2 separate regions of the Homo sapiens genome follow, and region 1 is linked to region 2. Evidence: fine-mapped expression QTL. A gene starts in region 2. The other region holds a variant in brackets. All regions are shown on one strand. Distances are from middle to middle. Region 1 has its middle 51 kb from the start of RBM38-AS1. Region 2 holds the start of RBM38 (RNA binding motif protein 38).

Evidence for each region. PIP is the estimated chance that this variant, and not a neighbour inherited with it, causes the effect.
Region 1: its variant is the best candidate, but not a certain one, in a credible set for the expression of RBM38 in pancreas (GTEx, PIP 0.90).

What each region holds. Positions count from the first base shown.
Region 1 is chr20:57,441,674-57,446,047 of GRCh38, forward strand. No RefSeq gene overlaps it. Among named protein-coding and RNA genes, the nearest start is that of RBM38-AS1, 51 kb to the left of the region's middle. RefSeq lists enhancers at 1-2,564, 1-375. The variant C/T (reference allele first, on the strand shown) is at 2,433.
Region 2 is chr20:57,388,989-57,393,362 of GRCh38, forward strand. RBM38 (RNA binding motif protein 38) reads left to right here and starts at 2,408. Exons shown (of 4, transcript NM_017495.6): 1 at 2,408-2,830; 2 at 3,666-3,789; 3 at 4,291-4,345. The coding sequence starts at 2,594. It overlaps RBM38-AS1 (RBM38 antisense RNA 1), which reads right to left and starts at 4,068. Exons shown (of 2, transcript NR_149006.1): 1 at 3,291-4,068. RefSeq lists silencers at 101-480, 2,091-2,490, 2,841-3,030 and enhancers at 2,125-2,626, 2,627-3,126, 3,881-4,070.

The sequences.
Region 1 (4,374 bases), 53 kb after region 2:
ACCAGTCAGCCCCTTCCTGGTGCCTGGTCTTTGGGGCCAAAGGGCAAGGCTGGCCAAGCGGTTTGGGAAGCGGGCCCGGGCTCAGGAGCACACTGAGGGCCCTTGGGCAGTGACCTGCCCTCCAACTGTGGCTATGATGAGGAAGGCGCATGCGTGCTGGTTGAGGAGGGAAGACCCCCATGACCATGAGCCAGTGTGGGCAGAGGAATGGGCAGGGGGAGGGGCAGGGGGCAGGTCCTCCCTTAGGAGCCACTACGGGGCATGAGGCTCCTGTGTCTGCTCGCCTTGGTTCCAGCCAGCAGCTTTGGCTCTTGGAGCCTCAGTTTTGCTATCCTTAAAATGGGTGTGATACAAACGCTATCTCAGGGTGGCAGCGGGAGTTCAAGGGGACAAGATGCACACCTCTCAGGGCCCTGCAGGGAGTTCCTGGAAGATTGACAGCAGGGCGAGGGAGGGATCTCTCCTTTCCTCGGAGATGGGGGAGGCAAGGGCTCTCTTTCTGTCCCTGACACCCCCTCCTCAGCTCCTCCTGCCCTCCCTGCTGTCTCATTATCTTAGGTGTGATGGGGGCATGGTGAGGCCTCCCAGCCACTCCCAGTGCTGGAAGTGCAGGCGTGGGGTGACCAGCTATTGCACATGTGACTGCATGGCTGTGTGTGTACGCATGTCCCTCCCAACCCCTATTAGCACAACCATGGGAACGTGACCGTGCAGCCCAACAGCCAGGGCGCGGGATACTCGAGAGGGTGGCCCCGGCCTGGGGATGTCTGTGGTTCTGCTGCTGCTCATTTCTGAAGCCCCTTCATGAGTTCTGGGACTCCTGGGGGGATGGGGCCCACTTATGAGTCCCTCAGAGGCATTCAGTGCAAAGTAAAAATGTGGCCCCCCCTCCAAACGTTCAAAAACGACGAAGACTTTTAAGACGACAACAGCAGAGCATTAAACCAACAGGCGGCCCTTCTGAGTGTGAGGGTCCCTCTGCGACTGCACAGGTCACACCCCATGCAGCCGGCCCTGTCCCCTCTGCCCCTCTGCAGCTCAGGTGGGCGGGGCCTGACCACTCCAGCCTGGTCACTCCAGCCTGGCCTTAGACTCTGAGGTGAGTGGTGCCAGGACCTGCCGGTCAGCCTGGATTCATCATAGCCTCTGTTGTCCAGTAGGCTTGGCAAGAAGGGTCTGTGGAAGTTTATAAAAGTGACACCCCCCAGCCCCCAACCTGGGGAGCAGCCAGGAGCCCTATGTCAGAATGTGCGGCCCCTAATGAAAGTGCTCTTCCAGCCACTCTATTTAAGCCAGGTGAGTTTGTTCTCAGGGACTGGAGGCCGGCAAGGTAATGCAGCTGTTTTTAGCGTTTTAGCAGGAGGCAGGTGCTGGCCAGGACGCCTGTGACGCTGTGGGTGACGATGGCCATGACCCGGACACATACAGGTTGGGCAACCTGGGCAGAGCTGGTGTGCCTGGAGGTGGGGCGGGGGGGGTGCCTGGAAGACTGGTGTGGCCTGGATGTCCTGAGAGCGCCAGAACCTCTCCTTGGGGCTCCCTGGGTGGCTACCACCTTTGACTCTTGCCCTAGGGGCACACACTGCCACCTTTCCAGAAAGTTCTCTGGGATCTACAGAAACTGACCACCCATCCAGGTGCTTGAACGTGTCAACTGGTAACTTGCAGCTGTTCTGTTGGAACCTCTGAGATTCCAAGCAGAATTGCTCAGAACCTTCCGGATGCCCCACATGACATCCGCTCCCTCAGGGATAGACAGGGTTCGGCTGCTCATCGGGGTCTCCCAGAGCCTGGAACAGCGCTGTCCTAGAAGCCGTGAACAACCATCCTGCAAAGCTGGAGAAGCAGGGCATTTCCCCGCTGACACGCTCAGGACCAGGAGCTGGTGTGCGTCAAAGTCAGCACCAAGGCCGGTCCATGGCCTGTGAAATACTCGTCCCTCAAGATTGCATTTCAATGGAAAGACTGGCATTTCCCATTCATTCACCTATTTTTTGATGGAGGAAAAAGGTCTTTCTGAGTGGGGTGGGGTGCTCTGCTGCTTGGGGTGGTCCCCTCATCTTCCTTGCATAACCCACATCTCCAGTGTATCTTGTGCCTTTGCAGTTTCTCTTTCTTTGAAATGGAAGAGAGAAAGAATATGCTCCCAGAGACGGTAACTGGAGAGCTTCGGAGCAGACTTTTATACTCTAAAGTAAACTTGTCCTTTTCATTAATTAACTAACAGAGATTTATTTGGTGTGGACCTCACGCCACAGCCTGTGCTGGATGCTGAGAACAGAGGAAAAATGAGCCCAGGGAAATTGTGCCTGAGTGCAGCTAGGTCAGTTTTCTGTTTTACAAATGCAGGAACCAAGGCTCAGAGAGGGTGTGTGAATCACCTAAGGCCACACAGCGCCTGTGTGACAGGCTTTGGCCTGTAAGGGGAAAGC[C/T]GGCTAGAAGAGATGAGAAAATGGGGTGTCATTCACCAGCAAAACTGGGTTCAAATCCGCCTCTGGGACCTTGGGTAGGACCGGCCTGCCAAACACAAATGCATATCTGATTGTTCCCCTACCCCATTTTGTCTGTGTTATCTTATGTAAAATGCAGATTCCCCCATCCTTCCTTTATCCCTTTTGTTTATGTGGGTCCCCTCAAGCTTTAAGGGCTGTGCTCTGCTATAAGCTAGCCAACTTCTTGGAGCCTCAGTTTCTCATTTGTCAATGGGAACAATTACTGCTGGTTCCTGCGGTCACTCAGCAAATATTTGTTAAGCACCTACTAGGTGCCATGCAGCATTGTAGGCACTGGGATATAGCTGTGAGCCAAACACCCAGCACAGGGCTGATGTGGGAGCTGATGGGGTGGTGCAGCGGGCCTGGTCTGGGCTCCCTCAGCGAGCCAGGCCCAGGGCGCCCCAGGGCAACAGGGCTGCACTGCAGGTAGACTCAGCTTGGCAGATCCCTGGCCCTGGGGGCCGTCACATGGGGGCCAGGCCAGGGGCGTGTGGGAGCGGAAAGAGGATGGAGGGCAGGAAGGAGGGAGAAAGAGGGAGAAGAGAGGAGGGCACTCTCCTCATCCCCATCCTTCTCCAAAGAAGAAATGACGGCATCGTGCTCTCACCGACTCATCGTCCTAGTAGGTCCTTAGGACACCCAGCAAGCCAGACCTCCGTGTGACAGATGAGGAAACTGAGGCTCAAGGGTGACGTCACTTGCCTAGGATCACAGAATTCCCGAGGGGGATCTAGGCAGTCTCCCTCCACAGCCCAGTCTCTTCCCTTCGGACGCAATAAAAAAAGAGGGAAGGGGAGAGAATGATGGAAGGGGGGAGGAGGGAGGGGCAGCAGGAGGTGTGGGAAGCAGGAGGGGGAAGAGGCCCCTGGGAGGCTTTCTGGGCCCTGCCTTATTTTCCCCTCCCTCCTCCTCCTCCTCCTCTTCCTCCTCCTCCTCCTCCTCCTTCTCCTCCTCCTCCTTCTTTGAGACAGAGTCTCGCTCTGTTGCCCAGGCTGGAGTGCAGTGGCACGATCTCGGCTCACTGCAACCTCTGCCTCCCGGGTTCAAGCAATTCTCCTGCCTCAGCCTCCTGAGTAGCTGGGACTACTCAGCTCATTTTCGTAGTTTCAGTAGAGATGGGGTTTCACCATGTCGACCAGGCTGGTCTCGAACTCCATCCCCGCTTCTCCGGGGGCTTTTGCTCCTAGGGACTCGGGCTCAGCTGAGCTCCTGTGGCAAGTCCTGTGGGACTGGCATGGAAGACTCCTGGGCATGTGGTGGCTATGACTCTTCCCTGATGATGGTGGCCGCACCTTGGGATTGGCTTCTCCTCTCCGAGTCAGGGACCTGGCATTTTTGGCAGCCCTTGGGGGCTATTTTTAAACCTCACAGCTGGTTTTCATCATGGCTGCTGATAGGTACGTGTAGAAACATTGGCTCTTGCCAGCATTCTGAACAAACCTTGAAAACGAGCAGGGTTGGAGCGGATCAAAGTAGGGGCTCAGGGAAACCTGAAGTGGCAGCCAGTGCTTTGTCCCCACCCAGACCCTTGTAAGGGTAGGAGATGAAAGAGCACGGCTCAGGGGATGAAAGGAGGTGCCAGGGCAGGAGAGAGCCAGGGATTAGGCACGTTCCCTAGAAGATGTAGCTGAATGTTGGGACACAAGAGAAGGGCTCTTTAGCAGCTAGAGCCCTGTTATCCTCATTTTCCTTCTGGGAGGCAGCAAAATACAGAGGTTGAGAGCATGGATTCTGGAGTCCCACAAACCCGACTCCTGCCTTGAGTCCTGACTCAGCCTTTAACAGTTGTGTGACTGTGAGTGTATCAGTTAGCTACTGCTATGTAACAAATCGTCCCAAAACCTAGTTGCTTAAAACATGATTCTATGAGTTGACAATT
Region 2 (4,374 bases):
TGGCTTGGAGCCCGAGAGGTCGAGGCTGCAATGAGCTATGATCGCTACACTCCAGCGACAGGGAGAGACCTTGTCTCAAAAAAAAAAAAAAAAAAAGTGTGTGTTTGGGTGAATGACTGATTGTCAGGCAGAAGCTGGTGACCCGTGGAGACATGGGGCCGCCGGAGGGGGGGAGGGATTGGTGATCCAGATACCCAAGGGGGCCCGGGGGCGGGGGGCGAAGGAGTGCGACTGGACCCGCACCTGGGCAACCGCGTCTCCAGCCTCCACGGCCCTGTCCCGCCCCCTTCCGGGCAGGCAGAGGCCCCGGGGCTGCCCTGCCGCCTGGGCCCGGCCCCCGCGGCAGCAGCCGAGCGGCCGCACCCCTTTGTGGGGCTGTCGTGCCGGGAGGGGCGCGGGCGAGGCGGGCCCGGGCGGCGCTGGGACTTGTAGGCCGGGAGCCCGGGCGCCTCCGGGCTGAAGCCCGTGGCCACGCCACCGACGCGGCTCCAGCCTGCCCAGGCAACGCGACGGCTGGGGACAGCCTTGGAAAAACTGAAGGGGAAACCGAGGCCTGGTGAAGGGATCCAGCTGGCGCAAAAGCACGCGGCCGCGCAGTGGCCGCCTCCCCCGGCCTCTAGGGGGCAAGTGAAGGTCACACTTAAATGAAAGTTTTCAAAGTCGCTTCGAAGGGCCTCCGGCTGGGCCAGAGCTTTCCCCCACCCCACCTTGTTCCATCGTGGATACACTCAACAAACATATCCCAGAGCCCTCTCCTTGCCAGGCCCTCCAGCTTGGGCAAAACATCCCAGGTCCCTGTTCTCGCAGCGCCCAAATAGCAGGGGAGGGGCTCCAGGCAGGCGAACACACAGGGCCGGGGAGGTGGGAAACTCCGCGAAGGAAGGAGAGGAAACCACGCGGGATGAAGGGCAACGGGGGCCGCAAGCGGGGGCAGGAGCGCCAGGAACGAGGAACGAAGGGGGAAGGGAGGAAAGGACGCCCAGGCTTCCGGAAGACTCGGGGGTCCCATCCCCACTGTGCAGAGGGCTAGAGCGGGAGCTGGGGGAGGGAGAGGTCAGAGGTCAAGGCTGCCGCGTGGAGCGTGGGCCGTGGAGTGGGGGAGGGGGCGGGCAGACTCCTCCCCGCCGGCAGCCAGGGCAGAGGGCTGGAGGAAACGCGGAGAACTCCTCGGTGCTGGAGGAAACGAGGGGAACTCCTCGCCGGCCTTGCGGTCCCCCACAGCCCACGGAGTGCCACTCCCAGTCCCCACAGACCCCACCTGCGTCGCCCTGTGCTGAGAGGAGGCCGCAGGGCTGGGGCCGGGAGTGACCCCAATTAGAGCTGCTGTTTCCCAGCTGCATAGGTCCCAACCGCGGGGGCTGGAGATGAGGCGGGCTTGAGGCCCCTAGTCCCGGCTTCAGAGGTGGAGGGTGTGACCCGCAGGTCCGGGATCCCGGGGTCTGTGCAGTCACACGGCCCTTCCCTTCGCTCAGGAAAGCCCGGGGCTGAGTTTCATGCTCAACCGCTGCCAACTTGAAATTCCTAGCTTTTGAATAAGGGGCCCCGCGTTTGCATTTTGCACTGGGCCCCGAAAATTCTGTGGCTGGCCCTGCCTGGTGTGAAGCTCACAGAGCCCCACTATGCGCCGCCTTTCTATGGCTGGGGGCCGGATGAGGGACCCGGGTCTGCTCTTACTCGCCCCAAGGGTCCCTGACACCAGCCCAGAACGGGGTGGAGCTGGAAAGAGCCCACACCTGCTTCCTCTGCCCACCTCATCTCCCGCGGGGCCTCTGAGACCGCCCGGGACCCGCTTCTATCGCGGCACCGTGGTGTAGCTCCCTCCGGGGTCGTATGCTGTATGTTTACTAGCCGAATTCTCAGTCCTGGACGCTCCGTGGGGCCAGGGAATATGATCTGTGCTCCGCTGCAGCCTCGCGCCCAGAGTAAATATCGGTCGGATGAACTAATCTTACATATAAAACAGAAATCATTTCCCTTTTTTAATATGGCACGTGGCTCTTCCCTAAGTCGCCCTGGGTTAAATACCGACTCAATTAACAAGATGCTAAAAACCGTTTACGTTTTTTTACGTTTTTTACGTTTAATTCACCAGACGGTGCGCTCCACGAGGGAAGGGGCCTGGCCTCCCTAGTTCAGGGTTGTGCTTAGTGCCTGCAACCGGCCGGGCCCGCGGGGGCAGCCAGGAGAGAAAGGCGCGCCCAGCGCCCCCAGGCCCGGATCCGCCCTCAGCCCGCGTGCGCTCCCCTCCCCCCTCCCCCCAATCGCCGCGCGCCCGGGTGCGGCTGGGCGGGGTTAGAACTACGCTTCCCGGCGGTCCCCGCGCGCCCGGGGCGGGGCGGGGCCGGCTGGGGGCGGGGCTGAGCTGGCGGGGGCGGCAGGCTACAAAGCCCGGGGGCGGTGCCGGGGCGCAGAGTCCCCGCAGCGCCGGTCGGGAGCGCAGCGCGGCGCACGTCGGCGCGCACGGCGGGACGGGCGCCGGAGTGGTCGGGCCTGGCGGCTGGACGGGCGCCCCTCGCTGCCCCGCGCGCTCCCCGCCGCCCCCCATGAGCGCAGCCCCGCGCGGCCCGGGTCCGTAGGCGGCGGGGCGCCCCCCATGCTGCTGCAGCCCGCGCCGTGCGCCCCGAGCGCGGGCTTCCCGCGGCCCCTGGCCGCCCCCGGCGCCATGCACGGCTCGCAGAAGGACACCACGTTCACCAAGATCTTCGTGGGCGGCCTGCCGTACCACACTACCGACGCCTCGCTCAGGAAGTACTTCGAGGGCTTCGGCGACATCGAGGAGGCCGTGGTCATCACCGACCGCCAGACGGGCAAGTCCCGCGGCTACGGCTTCGTAAGTGGCCCCCGCGCCCGGGCCCGCACCCCGCCGCACACCTTATCGCGGCCCGGGCGCCGAGTCCACTCCGGGGCACACGCCCAGACGGCCCGCTGCCGCCCCCGCCCCAGGCGCCTCCAGCCGGCGCCCGCACCTGCCGCCTCTCCCGGGCGCGCTCCTGCCGGTCCCGCCCCCACCACCCCAGGCCCCGGCCCCCACCCCCACCCCCACCCCCACCCCCACCCCCGGTTTAAAAGGAAGAGCCGCTGTGTTCAATTAGGACTCCTAAGTTGGTGGGGAGGTTTTGGAGCCAGAGGGCACTCGGGATTTCCTGGAGCAGCGGGGGGTGAGGAGCAATGGCTCCACCCCGGGGTGTTAGGAGCTCTTCGGCCTCCCCCATATTTTTAACAGCCCTCTCAGCCGCCCCAAATAAACATCAGCTTAAGTAAAAACGTCTTGAAGACACTTTCCTGCTTACCTTCCAAGCATAGCGTCGCAAACTCCTTCTCAGAGGAAAGTCTCGGCCCTCACTGGTGGGCAAGTCCAGGCGGCCCCCCAAGCTCCCTTCGGGGTTCATTTTTGCCCTATCCCCGCAGGGGATTATTTTTGTCCTTGAAGGCCACATTTCCCAGGCCTTGAACTTTGACGGGAGGAGCTGGAATCCAGGAGGCATCTTTGTGGGAGAGCCCCAGGTAGGGTTCAGAGGAGCTTTGGCTCAAGGACCCTGGGTCACAGGCACCCTCAGAGGAAGGGAAGAGAGGGGTGGCAGCATCCGGTGCCAGGGCGGAGCCGTCTGCCCCTTTCGCCCCTGGTTCCCCCCACGGCAGCCCCTGATGTGTCTCTGCTCCACCAGGTGACCATGGCCGACCGGGCGGCAGCTGAGAGGGCTTGCAAAGACCCGAACCCCATCATCGACGGCCGCAAGGCCAACGTGAACCTGGCATATCTGGGCGCCAAGCCGCGGAGCCTCCAGACGGGTGAGAGCTTGTGTTTTCCTGCCTGGCTCTTCTCGGTTTCTATATTGGGTGTCGGTATCTGTCGGGTGGAAAGAGGCCCCCCCTCCTCGCCCCAGCAGTGGCAGTCGGCTATCATGTGCCTGCAGAGCCGGCACAGGGCAGCCATCCCCCCCTCGAGGATCTAGACCCCTTCTCACAGCGTGTGGCCCAAAGAAGGGGGCGGGGGGCAGGGAGGGTACTGCACCCCAGTTGCCAGCTGTCCTCGCAGGAGGGAGGAAGTGGCCATGGGGCCTGGAGGTTGGGAGTGCCGACACCAGTGGCTGCTGACACCTGCGTCACTCACTGCCACACTTCAGCGGTGTGCCTTGGGGTTCACAAGGGGGAGGCCTGGGAGGGGAGAGGAAGCGGATGATCCCTTTTGACTAGAGGTGTGTGGCTTGTGGGATTCTGCCACCCTGTGTGCAGCCCTTGAGACGTGGCTCGTGCAGCAAGGCCAAGTCCCTGATTGTTCTCTCGTTTTAGGCTTTGCCATTGGGGTGCAGCAGCTGCACCCCACCTTGATCCAGCGGACTTACGGGTGAGTGGACATGGCTGGCTTGGGGTGGG